2 separate regions of the Homo sapiens genome follow, and region 1 is linked to region 2. Evidence: fine-mapped expression QTL. A gene starts in region 2. The other region holds a variant in brackets. All regions are shown on one strand. Distances are between the middles of the regions. Region 1 overlaps ETV4 (ETS variant transcription factor 4). Region 2 holds the start of ARL4D (ARF like GTPase 4D).

Evidence for each region.
Region 1: its variant is fine-mapped to the expression of ARL4D in whole blood (INTERVAL, PIP above 0.99).

What each region holds. Positions count from the first base shown.
Region 1 is chr17:43,527,188-43,535,509 of GRCh38, reverse strand. ETV4 (ETS variant transcription factor 4) reads left to right here. Exons shown (of 13, transcript NM_001079675.5): 6 at 1,525-1,651; 7 at 2,162-2,323; 8 at 2,571-2,836; 9 at 5,329-5,403; 10 at 5,558-5,626; 11 at 5,834-6,006; 12 at 6,274-6,375; 13 at 6,767-7,664. The coding sequence ends at 6,991. It also overlaps a transcript of DHX8 not described here. Among named protein-coding and RNA genes, the nearest start is that of ETV4, 15 kb to the left of the region's middle. RefSeq lists an enhancer at 6,374-6,915. The variant G/A (reference allele first, on the strand shown) is at 3,191.
Region 2 is chr17:43,394,861-43,403,182 of GRCh38, reverse strand. ARL4D (ARF like GTPase 4D) reads right to left here and starts at 4,190. Exons shown (of 2, transcript NM_001661.4): 1 at 4,090-4,190; 2 at 2,046-3,522. The coding sequence starts at 3,450. The coding sequence ends at 2,845. It also overlaps the pseudogene RNU6-1137P. RefSeq lists an enhancer at 3,563-4,066.

The DNA of each region.
Region 1 (8,322 bases), 130 kb before region 2:
AGGTCAGGAGTTTGAGACCAACCTGGCCAACATGATGAAATTCCGTCTTTACTAAAATACAAAAATTAGCCGGGCATGGTGGCGTGTACCTGTAATCCCAGCTACTCAGGAGGCTGAGGCATGAGAATCGCTTGAACCTGGGAGGCGGAGGTTGCAGTGAGGCAAGATTGAGCCACTGCACTCCAGCCTGGGTGACAGAGCGAGGCTCCATCTCAAAAAAAACAAAAACCAAAAAACAAACCCTGCTTTAATGTCAGATACTTTGCTGTCAACTGTCTTCACCAGTGAAACAATGGGGCACAAAGAATCAAAAACAGCAGAGAATAGTTGGTTACAAACGGCATTTGACTGGACTGCGGTTAAAACTGAATCTCACACCGGCTTGGAACCAACTCTTTGCTGCTCAGCCTCGTGGCCAGAGTTTGGGAACCCCGCAGGGGCCACAGGAAAGGCCAGTGTTCTTCACAGATAAGTAGGAGCATGTGTATAATGTTAGTCAGCTGACATTCAAGTGGGCCAATATCCAACCTCAACCAGAAAAAGAAAGATTCTTTTATTTATTTATTTAGAGACAGAGTTTCACTCTTGTTGCCCAGGCTGGAGTGCAATGGTGTGATCTCGGCTCACTGCAACCGCTGCCTCCCAGGTTCAAGCAATTCTCCTGCCTCAGCCTCCCGAGTAGCTGGGATTAAAGGGATGTGCCACCACGCCCGGCTAATTTTTTTGTATTTTAGTAGAGATGGGGTTTCTCTATGTTGGTCAGGCTGGTCTTGAACTTCTGACTTCAGGTGATCCGCCCGCCTCGGCCTCCCAAAGTGCTGGGATTACAGGCGTGAGCCACCGCGCCCGGCCAAGAAAGATTCTTTATATCCTCAAATAAGAAAACATGTCACTCCCCTGGAATTTTCCAGGGCACTCAGGAAAACTACAGGCCCTAGGTTGGAGGTGCTCACTCCTTGAAAGTGTTTTCTGGGGCCTGGGGTTGCATTAAATGTTTTTGTTTTTTGTTTCTTTTTGAGACGGAGTCTCGCTCTGTCACCCAGGCTGGAGTGCAGTGGCATGATCTCGGCTCACTGCAATCCCCGCCTCCTGGGTTCAAGCAATTCCCTTGCCCCAGCCTCCTGAGTAGCTGGGACTACAGGCATCCGCCACCATCCCCGGCTAATTTTTTTTTGTATTTTTAGTAGAGACAGGGTTTCACCATGTTGGCCAGGCTGGTCTTGGACTCCTGCCTCCCAAAGTGCTGGGATTACAGGTGTGAGCTACCGTGCCCAGCCTAAATGTTGAACTTTAGATGGTTTATTTAGTCAATAATCAGACACTAGTCTGATGTATAAACTAGACATAATGTAAATAGCCAAAATGTTCTTGTCTCACTGCGGGTCTCAGAAAATTGATACCCAGAGAGGGAAGGAGGCTGTACCAGTCACCCAGCTGGTCCTCAAAGCTCAGAAGGTATCAGAAGCCCTGCCTGCCTCTTGTGTGACAGGCTCTGGCCTTGCTCTGTCCCCTCCACCCCCACAGTAGCTTTCCACAGCCCCACCACCAGGATCAAGAAGGAGCCCCAGAGTCCCCGCACAGACCCGGCCCTGTCCTGCAGCAGGAAGCCGCCACTCCCCTACCACCATGGCGAGCAGTGCCTTTACTCCAGGTGAGCCCCAGCCTGGACCTGGTGAAGGGTAGGAGAAGGGTTCCAGAGGAGGGAGGCAGGGGGCACCCATGAGCAGAGGCAGCAGCTGAGATGCAAGTTAGACAACAGAAAGGATTTTCTAGCACTTGTAAGGAAGCAATACAGCTAAGGATTTCCTCTGAATAGACGGAAAACGCAGCAGAGGGCCTCAGGAATATATACTGAGGCCAGAGCAGATTCTGTTTCCACCAAGAGGCCCACTGTCCCACCTAAACCATTGCTCTGAGCAACAAATCCCCCCTGTATGAATCCCAGGGGTTCAAGACTAGCCTGGGCAACAGAGGGAGACTGTCTCTGAAAAAGAAAAGAATTGGCTAGGGCTGAGTCTGTGGCTCCTGCCGTTCCCTTCTCAGCCCCCTCTATCCTTCCTTCTCCTGTAATCCCTGTGACCTCGCTTTCCTAGGAATGAAGGGTTCAAAGATGCTTTCCAGCTTCTCTGCCCCCTCACCCCTGTCTCCTTCTCAACTCCAGTGCCTATGACCCCCCCAGACAAATCGCCATCAAGTCCCCTGCCCCTGGTGCCCTTGGACAGTCGCCCCTACAGCCCTTTCCCCGGGCAGAGCAACGGAATTTCCTGAGATCCTCTGGCACCTCCCAGCCCCACCCTGGCCATGGGTACCTCGGGGAACATAGGTAAGGAGACAGGGAAACCCACTGCTCATGGGCCCAGGTGTTTTTTCAATTCCTGAGTGTTCTCCATAAAGACTTGAGCTGTGGGGTGGTAGAGGCAGGGGGCAGTGGAATAGAAAGGGAGAAATACTGACACCCCAACCCCCTACCCCCCATTCCGGAGCCCACTCTAAAAGCCTAGGAGTAACAGGCTCGAGGAAGGATTAATTTAAAGTTCTCTTCTCTTCCTTCTCCATCCAACCACATCCAGCTCCGTCTTCCAGCAGCCCCTGGACATTTGCCACTCCTTCACATCTCAGGGAGGGGGCCGGGAACCCCTCCCAGCCCCCTACCAACACCAGCTGTCGGAGCCCTGCCCACCCTATCCCCAGCAGAGCTTTAAGCAAGAATACCATGATCCCCTGTATGAACAGGCGGGCCAGCCAGCCGTGGACCAGGGTGGGGTCAATGGGCACAGGTACCCAGGGGCGGGGGTGGTGATCAAACAGGAACAGACGGACTTCGCCTACGACTCAGGTAAGAGACTGGGGTGGGGCAGGGTGGCATGTGATCAAGTGTTCAGTTAAGCCCAGAATGTCTCCCGAGTTTTTTTACATTGCTGTTTACCATTTCATACATCCAACCCACCCACCCACTTTTTTTCTTCATAATTTCAAAAGAATGTTATTTTTCTTTCTTTTTCTTTTTTTTTTTGAAATGGGGTCCTGCTCTGGCCCAGGCTAGAGTGCAGTGGCACGATCTCTGCTCACTGCAACCTCTGCCTACCGGGTTCAAGCGATTCTTGTGCCTCAGCCTCCCGAGTACCTGGGATTACAGGCACCAGCCACCGTGCCCGGCTAATTTTTGTATTTTTAGTAGAGATGGGGTTTC[G/A]CCATGCTGGCCAGGATGGTCTCGAACTCCTGACTTCATATGATCCATCGCCTCGGCCTCCCAAAGTGCTGTGATTATAGACATGAGCCACCTCACCCGGACAAATTATTACTTTTCAATGAGCAAACCTATATTCAGATTAAAAGATAAGGGGGGCCCCCGGGGCATGGTGAGTCATCTGTAATCCCAGCACTTTAGGAGGCCATGGCAGGAGGATCGTTTGAGCCCAGGAATTAGTTCAAGGCCAGCTTAGGCAACAAAGTGAGACCTCGTGTCTATTTATAAAAAAGTAAAATTAAAATAAAGGGGGATGTAGATCCTGCCCTCAGGTAGCTTGTGACTTAATAGGGAAGTTAAGGCATTTATTTCTATTTAACAGGTGTTTGAGGTTTTAATTACCTATTAAGACCAAACTACTGTGACAGGAACACGAGTGTGCAGAGTTGGGAAATACAAAGATGAATAGGATGTGTCTGGTCCCTATCCCCACAGAGGCTTAAAAATACAAAGGGATTTGAATGAAGAGAAACATGAATTTGAAACTAGCCAGGCTCATGGTTCTTGCTAGTTCTCAATAGGAGGGCAGGGTTTTCTTGTTTTGTTTTGTTTTGTTTGTTTTGAGACAGAGTCTTGCTCTGTTTGTTTGTTTTGAGATGGAGTCTTGCTCTCTCGCCCAGGCTGGAGTGCCACTGGGTTCAAGCGATTCTCATGCTTCAGCCTCCCGAATAGCTGGGGTTACAGGTGCCCATCACCATGCCCAGCTAGTTTTTGTATTTTTAGTAGAGACGGGGTTTCACCATGTTGATCAAGCTGGTAGAAGCACAGGTTAATATGTGGCTTACATATTTGAGCCTCCCAATTGATGTATGCCCTGGCCAGAGGCAAGGGCAGAGGAAGTAGGGACTTCTTTAAATTCTAGTTCCACCTGGCTGTTGACTGGAGTGAGATGCACTCACCTGTGTTCATAAATAGCTATAGTTCAAAGCCTCAAGGGCCGAAGGAGGGCCAGTCCCAGGAAGGGTCCAGAAAACCCTGCCTTTTCTTCTTTCCTCCTGGCTTTTGTTACATTAGTAGCCCTAGATCTGAGTTTATTAGAGTAGGCCCAGAGCTAGCTAGAACTTTAGAATTTCCCTTTTTGTGGTGCCCACAACCGTTCAAGGGCAGGGGGATGAACCACAACCCCCCAGGCTGTCCAACTAAGAACCGGATGGTGCTCCTGTCCTCAAATCCAGGGCATAAGCCTGAGCCAGGCTTGGCAGTGAGCTGGGGAGAGGAGGAGGGAGGCACTCTTGCCGCTGACCTTCAAAGGCTGTAGACCGGAGGGGATTGTGTTACATGCCCTTGAACTCCTGCCCCTCCCCCCAGCTACTCCTGAATGGAGTCAGGAATTCCATTCACAAAATGGAGGCATGAATGAGCCCACCCTCCCGCCTCCTCCCGGAGGTGTCATGTTTCACCATCTTCTCATTCATAGGTGGGAGTGCAGTGGGGGGAGGGCGGGAAGGGGTTGGAACTTGAACGGGTGGCTTCACACAGCCGCCTTCCCGATGTGGAGTGGGAAGGTTCCTATCCTATGGAATGGAATGAAACGAAGTGGAATGTGCTCTGTTAGACCTGAAAAAACAAGGCCCAGTGCCCACTGCCTCTTCCCCAGGTGCATGCAGGCGCACGCTCTGTTTCTGTCACACACACACACACACACACACACACGCGCGCGTGCACAGGGCTGGGAACCTGACCTGCTGACCGGACATTTTTGTCCATTCTGAGGGAGTCTTAGGCGTGGACACCGAACTCTTTCCCCGGACGTTCATCTCACCCTCCCTCCTCCCCCTGAACTCGCAGGAAACAGCTGCTCCCTGGCAGCTTGGGCCCTTCAGAACAGCTTGCCCAGCCCCCGCTGCTGCCTTCCATGGCCTCAGCCGCAGCCCTCAAGTTGAGGAGGGGTTCCAGCATCACACTCCCTCTGGGTGAACTTTCCCTGGGATTTTGTGGTTGGCAGGCAACCTGGGCAAAGAACAGTCACCAGGAAGCAGGCTGGAAGGAAGAAATTCTTGAATGTGGATAGGACTTCCTCCTCCCCTGCCCTCGAGCTCCACCCCAAGCCACTTCTCACATCACCCCTTCTTCCCCCACAGATGTCACCGGGTGCGCATCAATGTACCTCCACACAGAGGGCTTCTCTGGGCCCTCTCCAGGTGACGGGGCCATGGGTAAGGCAGCCCCCCTTCCCCTGCCAAGCCCTCCATGTTGGGGGAGGGAGCGCTGCCATGGGGGAGGGTCTCCCTGGCCAGGAGTCCCTCTGGACTCTCTGGGGTCTCATCGGTGAACCCCCAGATCTGAGCAACCCCCAATTTCCTCCACAAGGCTATGGCTATGAGAAACCTCTGCGACCATTCCCAGATGATGTCTGCGTTGTCCCTGAGAAATTTGAAGGTCAGAGAAGTGACTGTTGATGGGAGGGTCAAGGTCTTATCACGCTGTGTCCCTGCAGGAGTCACATCACGTTTCATTGTTGCAAGAGGGTGGGACCCATAGAAAAGTACCTGGGGAGACCCCTTCGAGAAATCCCTCGGGTGGGAGGCGGTTGCTTGGGGGACCAAAAGACACAAACCCCACACCTCCTATTTTCGTGTTCCCCAGGAGACATCAAGCAGGAAGGGGTCGGTGCATTTCGAGAGGGGCCGCCCTACCAGCGCCGGGGTGCCCTGCAGCTGTGGCAATTTCTGGTGGCCTTGCTGGATGACCCAACAAATGCCCATTTCATTGCCTGGACGGGCCGGGGAATGGAGTTCAAGCTCATTGAGCCTGAGGAGGTGGGCCTCTCGGATGTTCCCAGCCCTCCTTTCCAAAGTTTACAGCCTGGAGGTGGGAGAACCTGGGAAATGGTGGCACGTGCCTCCATCATGATTCTTGCTTTACCTAACCTGAATTCTTGCCAAGCCTAAGTCTGTGGGCTGATGCTTTGTTGCAGAGCTAGCTTGGCACTTTGCACCAAGAATCTCAAGTGCTCTTTCTGACCTTACCCCCATTTTTTCCTCTGCCAAGGTAGCATCTCTACCCCAAAACTGTTTTGTTCCCAGGTCGCCAGGCTCTGGGGCATCCAGAAGAACCGGCCAGCCATGAATTACGACAAGCTGAGCCGCTCGCTCCGATACTATTATGAGAAAGGCATCATGCAGAAGGTGGGGGCTGTGGGTCTAGGGACAAGGTGGTGGGGGGCAGTGGCTGTGAGAAGCTGACTGGGGAGAGGGTCAGCAGGGCAGTTCTCAGCAACTTTGTAGGATCAGATAATGAATCAGTCAGAGAGACAAGAAATTGTGGAGAATCCCAAGGTTCTCCTCCCCCAAAAAAGTGCAACACTGTAACTGAGAAGCCCAAGCATGGAGAAGTTGAGATGAAAAAGGAGTAAGAACTGTGAAGGGAGAGTCAGCTTCTCAGGAACCAGCATGGGAGAGAAATGCCCCGAGCATCTGCCTGTACTGGTAGAAGGGCCACATTCCCCACTCCCCCACCTTACCCCATACAAAGGCTGGGCGGCTAGCCAGGCTGACCAGACCTTCTCTCTCCCCATAGGTGGCTGGTGAGCGTTACGTGTACAAGTTTGTGTGTGAGCCCGAGGCCCTCTTCTCTTTGGCCTTCCCGGACAATCAGCGTCCAGCTCTCAAGGCTGAGTTTGACCGGCCTGTCAGTGAGGAGGACACAGTCCCTTTGTCCCACTTGGATGAGAGCCCCGCCTACCTCCCAGAGCTGGCTGGCCCCGCCCAGCCATTTGGCCCCAAGGGTGGCTACTCTTACTAGCCCCCAGCGGCTGTTCCCCCTGCCGCAGGTGGGTGCTGCCCTGTGTACATATAAATGAATCTGGTGTTGGGGAAACCTTCATCTGAAACCCACAGATGTCTCTGGGGCAGATCCCCACTGTCCTACCAGTTGCCCTAGCCCAGACTCTGAGCTGCTCACCGGAGTCATTGGGAAGGAAAAGTGGAGAAATGGCAAGTCTAGAGTCTCAGAAACTCCCCTGGGGGTTTCACCTGGGCCCTGGAGGAATTCAGCTCAGCTTCTTCCTAGGTCCAAGCCCCCCACACCTTTTCCCCAACCACAGAGAACAAGAGTTTGTTCTGTTCTGGGGGACAGAGAAGGCGCTTCCCAACTTCATACTGGCAGGAGGGTGAGGAGGTTCACTGAGCTCCCCAGATCTCCCACTGCGGGGAGACAGAAGCCTGGACTCTGCCCCACGCTGTGGCCCTGGAGGGTCCCGGTTTGTCAGTTCTTGGTGCTCTGTGTTCCCAGAGGCAGGCGGAGGTTGAAGAAAGGAACCTGGGATGAGGGGTGCTGGGTATAAGCAGAGAGGGATGGGTTCCTGCTCCAAGGGACCCTTTGCCTTTCTTCTGCCCTTTCCTAGGCCCAGGCCTGGGTTTGTACTTCCACCTCCACCACATCTGCCAGACCTTAATAAAGGCCCCCACTTCTCCCATTAGTTCTCCTGTGTCCTCTTTGCTGCCATGTGGGAACAGACCTGGGGGTAGAAAGAGCTCTGGTCTTGAAGCAGAGCTGACTGGTTTGGGGCCAGGCCCTGGCGCTTAAATCCTCATGTAGATTTGAAAAAAGGCAGTTCACCTGACTGTTTCTCTTCTGAAAAATGGGCTTAATGATACCTGCCCTTCCCCCTTCCCAGCATTACTGTGTGAGGATCCAGAAATAATGGACAGGGGGTACTTGATAACCTGGACAGGCGCCCCTTGTGCACTTTGGGCCTGCTTCCAGCAGCAGTCTCCCTGCCCCTGTGGGCGGGTCAGGTGGGCTACTGAGTGGCAAGGGTCTCCCTCCTGGGACTTCCTCAGACAGGGTTTTGGTCTTTGGTTTCTGTGATCCCAGTTGTTCCCATGACCCTGCTGTCCCACATAGACCCCAATTGCATGTCCTCCCTCCTACCTCAGCTCTAGGTTGCTACTTTTGCTGGGGTTGGGGACAAGTGTTTGTCTGGAGAATGGGGCAAAGGAGAAAGGCTCCCAGGCCAGATGGTACAGAGAGAGGCTAGAGCAGGCCCTGGATTCTGGCCAGTGGAGATTAGATCTTCCGGGGAGTGGGAAACACCTAGATTCTCCTTGCCCAAATTTGGGAGAGATCAGAGT
Region 2 (8,322 bases):
TACTTAATAGAGAAGCCAGTACAGGGCAAATATAACCTCACTCTCCATCCTGATCACACCCTCATTCCTTGCCCTTGCCCTGAGTTCAAAATGCAGAATCTCTGGGCAGGACTGGAGAGTGAGAGGTTCTCTCTCCCTCTCTCATCCTGCAGATAGGAAGTGATCCCTTCCCTTCCAGCTCTCCAGTCCCTTTGATGAGCCAAGGCAGGAGGATTATTCCAAAGCTCCTGACTCTGACCCGGCCACAATTTGTGGCTTTCTACTCAGAATTCCCCAGTGTTCCCCTCTCCCCACTACTCTGGCAGAGCAGTTGGCTTCTCCGTCTCTCTCTGACACAAGCCCCCATCTTCCTTTAGTGCCACCAGCTGGACAGTCAGGCCAGAGGGACTGGGGAAGAGCCTGGGACATTCAAAGGCCTCCTGTGGACCATGATCCCTGACCGCCCCCAGGGCTGGGCATGGGGAAGCAGAAGATACCTGTTTTAAGCAGGTAGGGAAGGAGTGTGGTTGGAAGAGCCAGAATCAGGAGCTGACATCTTGGAGGCCCCTCTGCTAGGGATTGGGGAACACCTCTGCACCTCTTCCCCCAAATCTGGAGACCTAAGTACACCAAGTGACAAGAAATGAAAATGTATAATTGAAGATTTTAAGACAAAAGAGCAGAATTTGGGTGGGGTGGGGAGGAAAGATCTCCTGGCAGGACAGAGGGTCAGTTCTGGCCAGTTCCTTTCCAGCCTGGACTGGGGCCTCAACCTGTCCTTGGGCTATAGGACTGTGCCCCAAAAAGACTGGGAGAGGAGTCGCAGGTGTGTCTGGGGGAGGGGCAGGTAGCACATGTTCCCAGCAGAACCAGCCCAGCAGTTCTGTCAAGCAGGCCCTAGCACTGACGCACACTTGGGCACCCTTCCGGATCAATGCACACTCACCCCAATCCTGCCAGCTACAGGGATGGGGAGGGGACCAAATCTGAGCTTCTGGCAGCGCTGGGTAGGAAGAAGCAAGTTCTTTAGGAAACCTTCCCCAGAAGTGGGGGTTGCCGGCACCTTCTCTTTCTCCCCAGGTCCTTTCATCTGATTCCGGAGAAGAGGAGACAGAATTGGGGAGAAGCAGGGTGTGAACGCTGAACCTGCTCTGGGGATTGTGTGTTTGCACAAAAGGTGGCAGGGGGTGGCTGGAGGGCTCGACAACTGGAAAGAATTGTGCTTGTTTTTTTTCTTTTTTAGAGACATGGTCTCCCTATGTTGCCCAGGCTGGTCTTGAACTCCTGGGCCCAAGCCATCCTCCTGCCTCAGCCTCCCAAAGTGCTGGGATTACAGGCGTGAGCCACTGTGCCCGGCCTTGTGCTTAGTTCTTACTCACTGCTCCCACCCAGAAGATTAAGAGGATCTAAGGGTTCTGTTATCAGACATAGCTGGCCCTGGTGCTGGTGAGTAGGGGCACTCAAGCCCTTGTAATATTAGCATTTTATTCTTACAATCACCACAAATACTGGGGGCTTATGTCTTCCCCCTTCTATCTTGGAGTCTGGAGGGTGTATGTCCAGCAGTCCTCTCTGCCACCAAGCACAAACAGCTACTACTTCTGCCCCTCTCGTGAGAAGAGCTACCATTCCCAGAGCTGGAAAACTCATGGCTTAGTCACCAGGGCCAGGCTGGCTCAATCCAGCCCAGGCCTCCCTAGCACCAGCCGCTGCCATCATGCCAGTGAGCCAGTCAGCAGGATTGAGTACACAGAGGTGACTTAAGGCCAGGGAGGAATTACTTTCCACTCTCACCACATCTTACAAGGAGGAAAAAAATCAAACCAACCTAAGACTGGGGAAGTGGGGAGGATGGGAACAGAATGGCTCTTTGAGGACTTACCTATATAGACTTAGGTGTCACCAAGGTCAAGAACCTAGGAGTAGCTCAGACTAGCAAAATTTGAAGTTAAATCTGCAAGGAGCAGTTGATATAAGGGACAAGTAAGACCCAGAGGATGAGGGGAGGGGTGTTAAATCAGAGAAAAAGGAAGTGACCCCACCCAAAAAACTACAGAGATCAGGCAATAGCTTGAGGGGTTTTCCACTCCCCCCTATAATTTTCACAAGCCATCCCGTAACACACAATCTAATTTTTATAAGTGCTTGCTTTGCAAATTCAGCTTCAAGATAAATCTCCCTCCCCCTGCGCCACAACCCCATATAGAAATCTTGAATTGTCTCTGGGGCAAGATAAGGAGAGGAAAATGCCCCAGACCAAGGTAAGAGCTACAGTTATCAGTCTTTAATAACTTACAGGCAAATGCTAAAAAATAGTTAATAACAATAATACAGAGGACACACACAGCTTATAAAAAGGGTCATGGATCTACAAATGTGGGGAGGGGTTCTTGGCACTTTCACAGACACAAAAATAAAAACTATGTGACTGGTATTCCTAGAAAAGCAGCCTGGGGAGACTCCCCAGTTGGGGGACAGAGGAAGGGGAGATAGTTATTTCATCCCAAACACATTCTCCAAGTCACTTCCATCCCCCCGCCCCCAAACACATCCAATTAAAAATTTTTAGCCAGAGAAGAAAAATAAGAAACAGGGTCGAGGTAGAGTCACAGTTTACATTTACGTCTCCACAGTCCTGCAGCGCCCACTTCTCCAGAGAGGATGAGAGAGATATGCAAAGACATCCCATCTCCCATCCCCACCCCAGTGTGGCACCAAAACGGGACACCCCATGCTCCTCTCTCCTTCATTGAGGTGGACAGGTCCTGCACCCCAGTCTGACTGAGAGGTCACAGGCTGGTCCCACCCTGCTGTCCAAGTGTGCAGACCCCTACTAGGTGGGAGGAAAGGGAGGGGGGGCTTGGGTCACCGTCTCTTCTTGCCACCCCGAGCTGCCTTCTTCCTCTTGAGGATCATCTCATAGAGGCGCTCAAGGCCCTGCTGCAGGCCCAGACCGTCCACAGCGCTGCAGCCTTGCACATGAGTGAGAGTGGCGGCTGCTAGCTCTCGGACTGCCAGCCTCTTCTCCACCTCAGCAGCGCTCAGTGCCCCGGGCTGGTCCTGCTTGTTGGCCAGCACCAGCACTGGCACGCCCTGGTTGTCCGAGGCCCGGCTGATTCGGTGCAACTCCACCTTGGCTTCCTCCAGCCGCTCAGCCTCCGCAGCGTCCACCACAAACACTAGACCGTCTGTCCGGCGGGTATAAGAGCGCCACAGTGGTCGCAGCTTCTCCTGCCCCCCGACGTCCCACACTTGGAAGGTGATGCCACGCGATCCCCCGAGGGGCACCCGGATCTTCTCGGTGTTGAAGCCTTTGGTGGGGACACTCTGGACAAACTCCTTGAACTTGAGGCGGTAAAGGAGGGAGGTCTTTCCAGCAGAGTCCAGCCCAATGACCACGACATGCAGGGCTTGGAAGTGGGGCAAGAAGGAGGAGGCAGTGGGCGCCATCTCAGTCAAGTGGTTCCCCATAGTGAGCTAAGGCGCCTAGTAGAGGCAGGGAGGCCTTGAAATTGAAGGTTCCAGGGAGCACAGCTGGGTTATCTGAACCAAGAAAAGGTCATGGGAGAAAAAGGAGACGTTTAATAATACACACAAGATTTGCAACTTCTTGATCCCTTCCTAAATCACCCTCCCATCCTTCATTTTTAAAATTCCTTTCCTTTTTTTTTTTTTTTTTAAGGCATAACAGAGGTGTTCCCCCACTCCCTGGGGGGGTCGTGAGGGGGGCGATGGGACCTAGAGAGACTCCCAGGTCCTGGGCCACTCAAGTGGGGGGTGAGGGCTCGATCCATGGACAGTGGGCTTCTAGAGCCTCTTCTCAGAGCTTATGGCGCCATCCCCCAGGCAAGATCCCCGAGGGACGGGGGAAGTCGACAGTGCCCCCAAACTAAGAGCTAGGGTGCAGACGCTGAGACCGGAGATTGAGTCCGGCTCCCACCCGCCCTCCGCAGCCCCAAGCCGTTGACACGGTGCCCTTCCTTACTCCGCGACCCTCGCCCCACCGCCCCGCGACACTCTCCTGCCCGCCCGCCCTCCTCCGATGGCCGACCCCAGCTCCAGCGGCCCGGCACCGGGACCGCCTCAGCACGGTCTGCAGGGTCCGTTTACCTCTCGTGAGCCGCGCTCTCCTCGAGCCTTTCCCGGTGAAACACCGCAGCCGCCCCGCGAGACCCCCGCAGACACCCACCGCGCCTCCAACCGCTGCCTCTGCAGAGCCTGCCTAGGGTTCGGCCTTAAAAACCCGCGTGTGACGTCACAAGGCGCGGGACAATCAGCGGCGGCGGGGCGGAGCGTGGAGCTACGGGCGCTGCAGCCCCCACCATACGCGGAGGGGCGTTTGCTTAATCCGTGGCTGCTCTATTTGACCTTTTCTACCACACTCTAATATTTGGAATTAAACTTGGAATTAATGCAGAATGGAGGGTGGGAGGGGCGAAAGGAACGTGCCTGGCAACGTTTGACTCGGGAGGAAAGATATGAATACCCTAATATTCTCACTACCATCGCATCCCCCTCCACCAGGCCGAGATACCACCCCACATGGACACTCCTTCGGCCAAAGGATCTACTCGGAGAGGCTGACAAGTCTTTCTCCTTTATCTTTCATAATTCAATTGTCAAACCTAAGGTGAACCTGGAGCCCCATAAAACAGCTGCTTCATAGTGCTAAGCCCATTATCTGCAATAGCCTGTTAGGGACTGTTGTCTGCCTTTTACAGATACACAAAGCCCTGAAGGGTTAAATGACCTATTTGAGGTTACACTCAACAGTATGTTTAGGCGCAGTGGATCATACCTGTAAACTCAGCACTTTGGGAGGCTGAGGCAGGCACATCACTTAAGCTCAGGAGTTCCACCAGCCTGGACAACAGGGTGAAACCCCATCAGTAATAAAAAGACAAAAATTAGCCGGGCGTGGTGGCGGGTGCCTGTAATCCCAGCTACTCGGGAGGCTGAGGCAGGAGAATCGCTTGAACCCGGGAGGCGGAGGTTGCAGTAAGCTGAGATAGCGCCACTGCATTCCAGCCTGGGCGACAGAGCAAGACTCTGTCTCAAAACAAAGCAAACAAAAAAAAAAAACCAGTGTGTTTATTGGGCTGGGCACGGTAGCTCACGCCTGTAATACCAGCATTTTGGGAGGCCGATGTGGGCGAAGCACCTGAGGTCAGGAGTTCGAGACCAGCCTGGCCAACATGGTGAAACCCCGTCTCTACTAAAAATACAAAAATTAGCTGGGTGTGGTGGCGGGCGCCTGTAATTGCAACTATTCGGGAGGCTGAGGCAGGAGAATCACTTGAACCCGGGAGGCGGAGGTTGCAGTGAGCTGAGATCACACCATTGCACTCCAGCCTGGGCAACAGAGCAAGACTCTGTCTCAAAAAAAACAAAAACAAAACAAAACAAAACAAAAAACACTGTGTTTATTGACCTCATTCATACTGTGTGCTCTGAATGAGACAGAGAGATGGTGGAGAAATAGAGGATGTCTCGGCTGTAGAATCAGGCCTCAAAGGGCTTAAGACTTAAGACTGGCAATGACAGAATGAGACAGCACATGTATTGGGTCTTTGTAAATCATGAGATAGCACTTGTAGGATTTCAGAGAAGAGAGAGAATGTGTCAACTGGAAGCTTCTGAAAAGGTTTATAGACGTTCTTTAGCCCTATCTAGGACTGGTTAGGAGGGGCACAGGAATGAGTAGGGTCTCCCCAGCCACTGCAGCCTGCTACAGTCTGGGCAGCCCTGAAAGGAAGGAGATGTCACAAAGGGCAGTGTGACCAAAAGGACAACAGCAATTAGGTGGGGGAGAGAAGAGGGCCAATCAAAGAAGAATGAAATTGTAAATTGTAACTTTATCTATTTATTTATTTATTTATTTATTTATTTATTTTTGAGACAGAGTTTTGCTCTTGTTACCCAGGCTGGTGTCCAATGGTGCGATCTCGGCTCACTGCAACCTCCACCTCCCAGGTTCAAGCAATTCTCCTGCCTCAGCCTCCCGAGTAGCTGGGATTATAGGCATGTGCCACCACGCCCGGCTAATTTTGTACTTTTAGTACAGACAGGATTTCTCCATGTTGGTCAGGCTGGTCTCGAACTCCCGATCTCAGGTGATCCGCCCGCCTCGACCTCCCAAAGTGTTGGGATTTACAGGCGTGGATTATTTTATTTATTGTGTAATTCAGTATTAATCTTTTTAAGGGCTATGTGTGAGAGGGATTGGAAAAAGGAGAAGGGAAGTCATTGCCAGACAGCACGGCCCAGCCTTTTCCTGCCCACCCTCCTCAATCAAGTGCTGATAAATAAGCTTCCCATCTGTTTGTCACCAGTGTGCTTTGCCACCTCCTTTTTCTCCCCTCCACTACAAAACCAGCCACCTGGTTTCCCCAGCAATGCAGGGAGCCTCCCCAAATCCCTAAAGACCTTAGGAAATTAGTCTAAGATTAAGACCTTAGGAAATTAGTTTGTTACACCCCAAGTTGGAGGGTGACAGGTTGCAGCAGCAGCTAACGTACAGGAGACAGACCTGAGCATGGTGAAGTTAGGAGAGGGGAAGACGGAGCAGGCCCAGCGGTTGAGAACCACTGCACTGTTGAGTGGCCACTGCATGCCAGGCTCTGGTCTAGGAACTTTGCTTACTTTTCCTTTTTTAATACACAAGTCAAGCCCATGAAGTAAGTATGGTTAGTCTAAAAAGAAGAAACTGAAGCACAGAAAGGTTAGGTAATTTGTTGAAGGTCATCCAGCTAGAAACTGGCCAAACCTGGCTTTGAACAAATGTTACAATGGCTATGAGACTGAAAACACACAAAAACTGAAAATACACAAGTTGTCTTGTTTCTTCCACAATCTTTGAAGCTTCTTTAACATGGCTCCTATAATCTGTCTTGGGACTCACATCCAAGACAGAAATTGTCACTTATCTGATAAAGGAAATGAAACTGACAATCCTACCCCACCCTTCCGTCTTTCATGTTTGCCAGAGAAGGTGTTAATGAACAAATGGGAAGGAGAAGGTGGGGCTGGGGAGGGGTAAAAAAAGGGGCCCAGCTCGTCCAGGTAGCACTAAGCTATGGGCTTACACTAATCCCTGCAGAGAACATCTGAACATTTGTACATTAAGCAATCATTTTTTTTTGAACGATACAGAAATTAGCATGGCCCCGTGCAAGGATGACTTGCAAATTCATGAAGCATTCCCTATTTTTTCAAAATTAAAATAAAAATAATTTTTTTTTTTTTTGAGACGGAGTCTCGCTGTTTTGCCCAGGGCGGACTGCAGTGGCGCTATCTCGGCTCACTGCAAGCTCCACTTCCCGGGTTCATGCCATTCTCCTGCCTCAGCCTCCCGAGTAGCTGGAACTACAGGTGCCCGCCACCGCGCCCAGCTAATTTTTAGTATTTTTAGTAGAGACGGAGTTTCACCGTGTTAGCCAAGATGGTCTCAATCTCCTGACCTCGTGATCCGCCCGCCTCGGCCTCCCAAAGTGCCGGGATTACAGGCATGAGCCACCGCGCCCGGCCTTTTTTTTTTTTTTTTAAAGACAAGGTCTCACTCTGTCACCCAGGCTGGAGTGCAGTGGCGAGACCATAGCTTACTGCAGCCTTGAACTCTTCGGTTCAAGAGATCCTCCGCCTCAGACTCCTGAGTAGCTGGGATTACAGGTGCGTGCCACCACATGTGGCTGGAGAACTACTTTAGATTGGTGGAAGAGTGTGCAGGAGAAAGTTTCAAAGCGGCGACGCTGAGCCAAGGTTTAAGTGACACTGAGTCAGATAAGCATCATTCTTCCTCAGAGCTGTCTCCTCCACCAGACTACGTGATCAAGGGCAGCAGCTGGTTCTTATCTGTAGCTCTACCATGCCCAGCACCATGCCTGGCACACATAGGCAGTCAGAAAATCTTGTGTGAATTAATGAATGCATGATGGAATAAATGTACTCAGAGGGCTCCCTGAGTAGGAGAACCAAACCTCCACCCTTAGCGTGGGAGTTTCCCAGCCTGGGGTCCTTGGGCCCTTGGGCCCTTGGGGGTTCTGTTGATACTGGGTTGGCCAGGAATTCCTACAAACCCTGCATTTCTAGGCAGTGTCTGAGTAGTATAGAACTCTCAGGCCTTTATTGGAGAGGAGGAACTTAAAGGAGAAAAACAAGGACCAAAAATGGGGATGACACTGGAGAGACAGGTTGCCCTTAGGACATGCTGGAACACCAGACTGAGATTCAGTGCGTGAGTCCCATCCTTCCATTCCTCACTAGTAGAGTGACTTGAAAAAGTAAAAAGCCACTTCCGGCCGGGCCCAGTGGCTCGCGCCTATAATGCCAACACTTTGGGTGGCT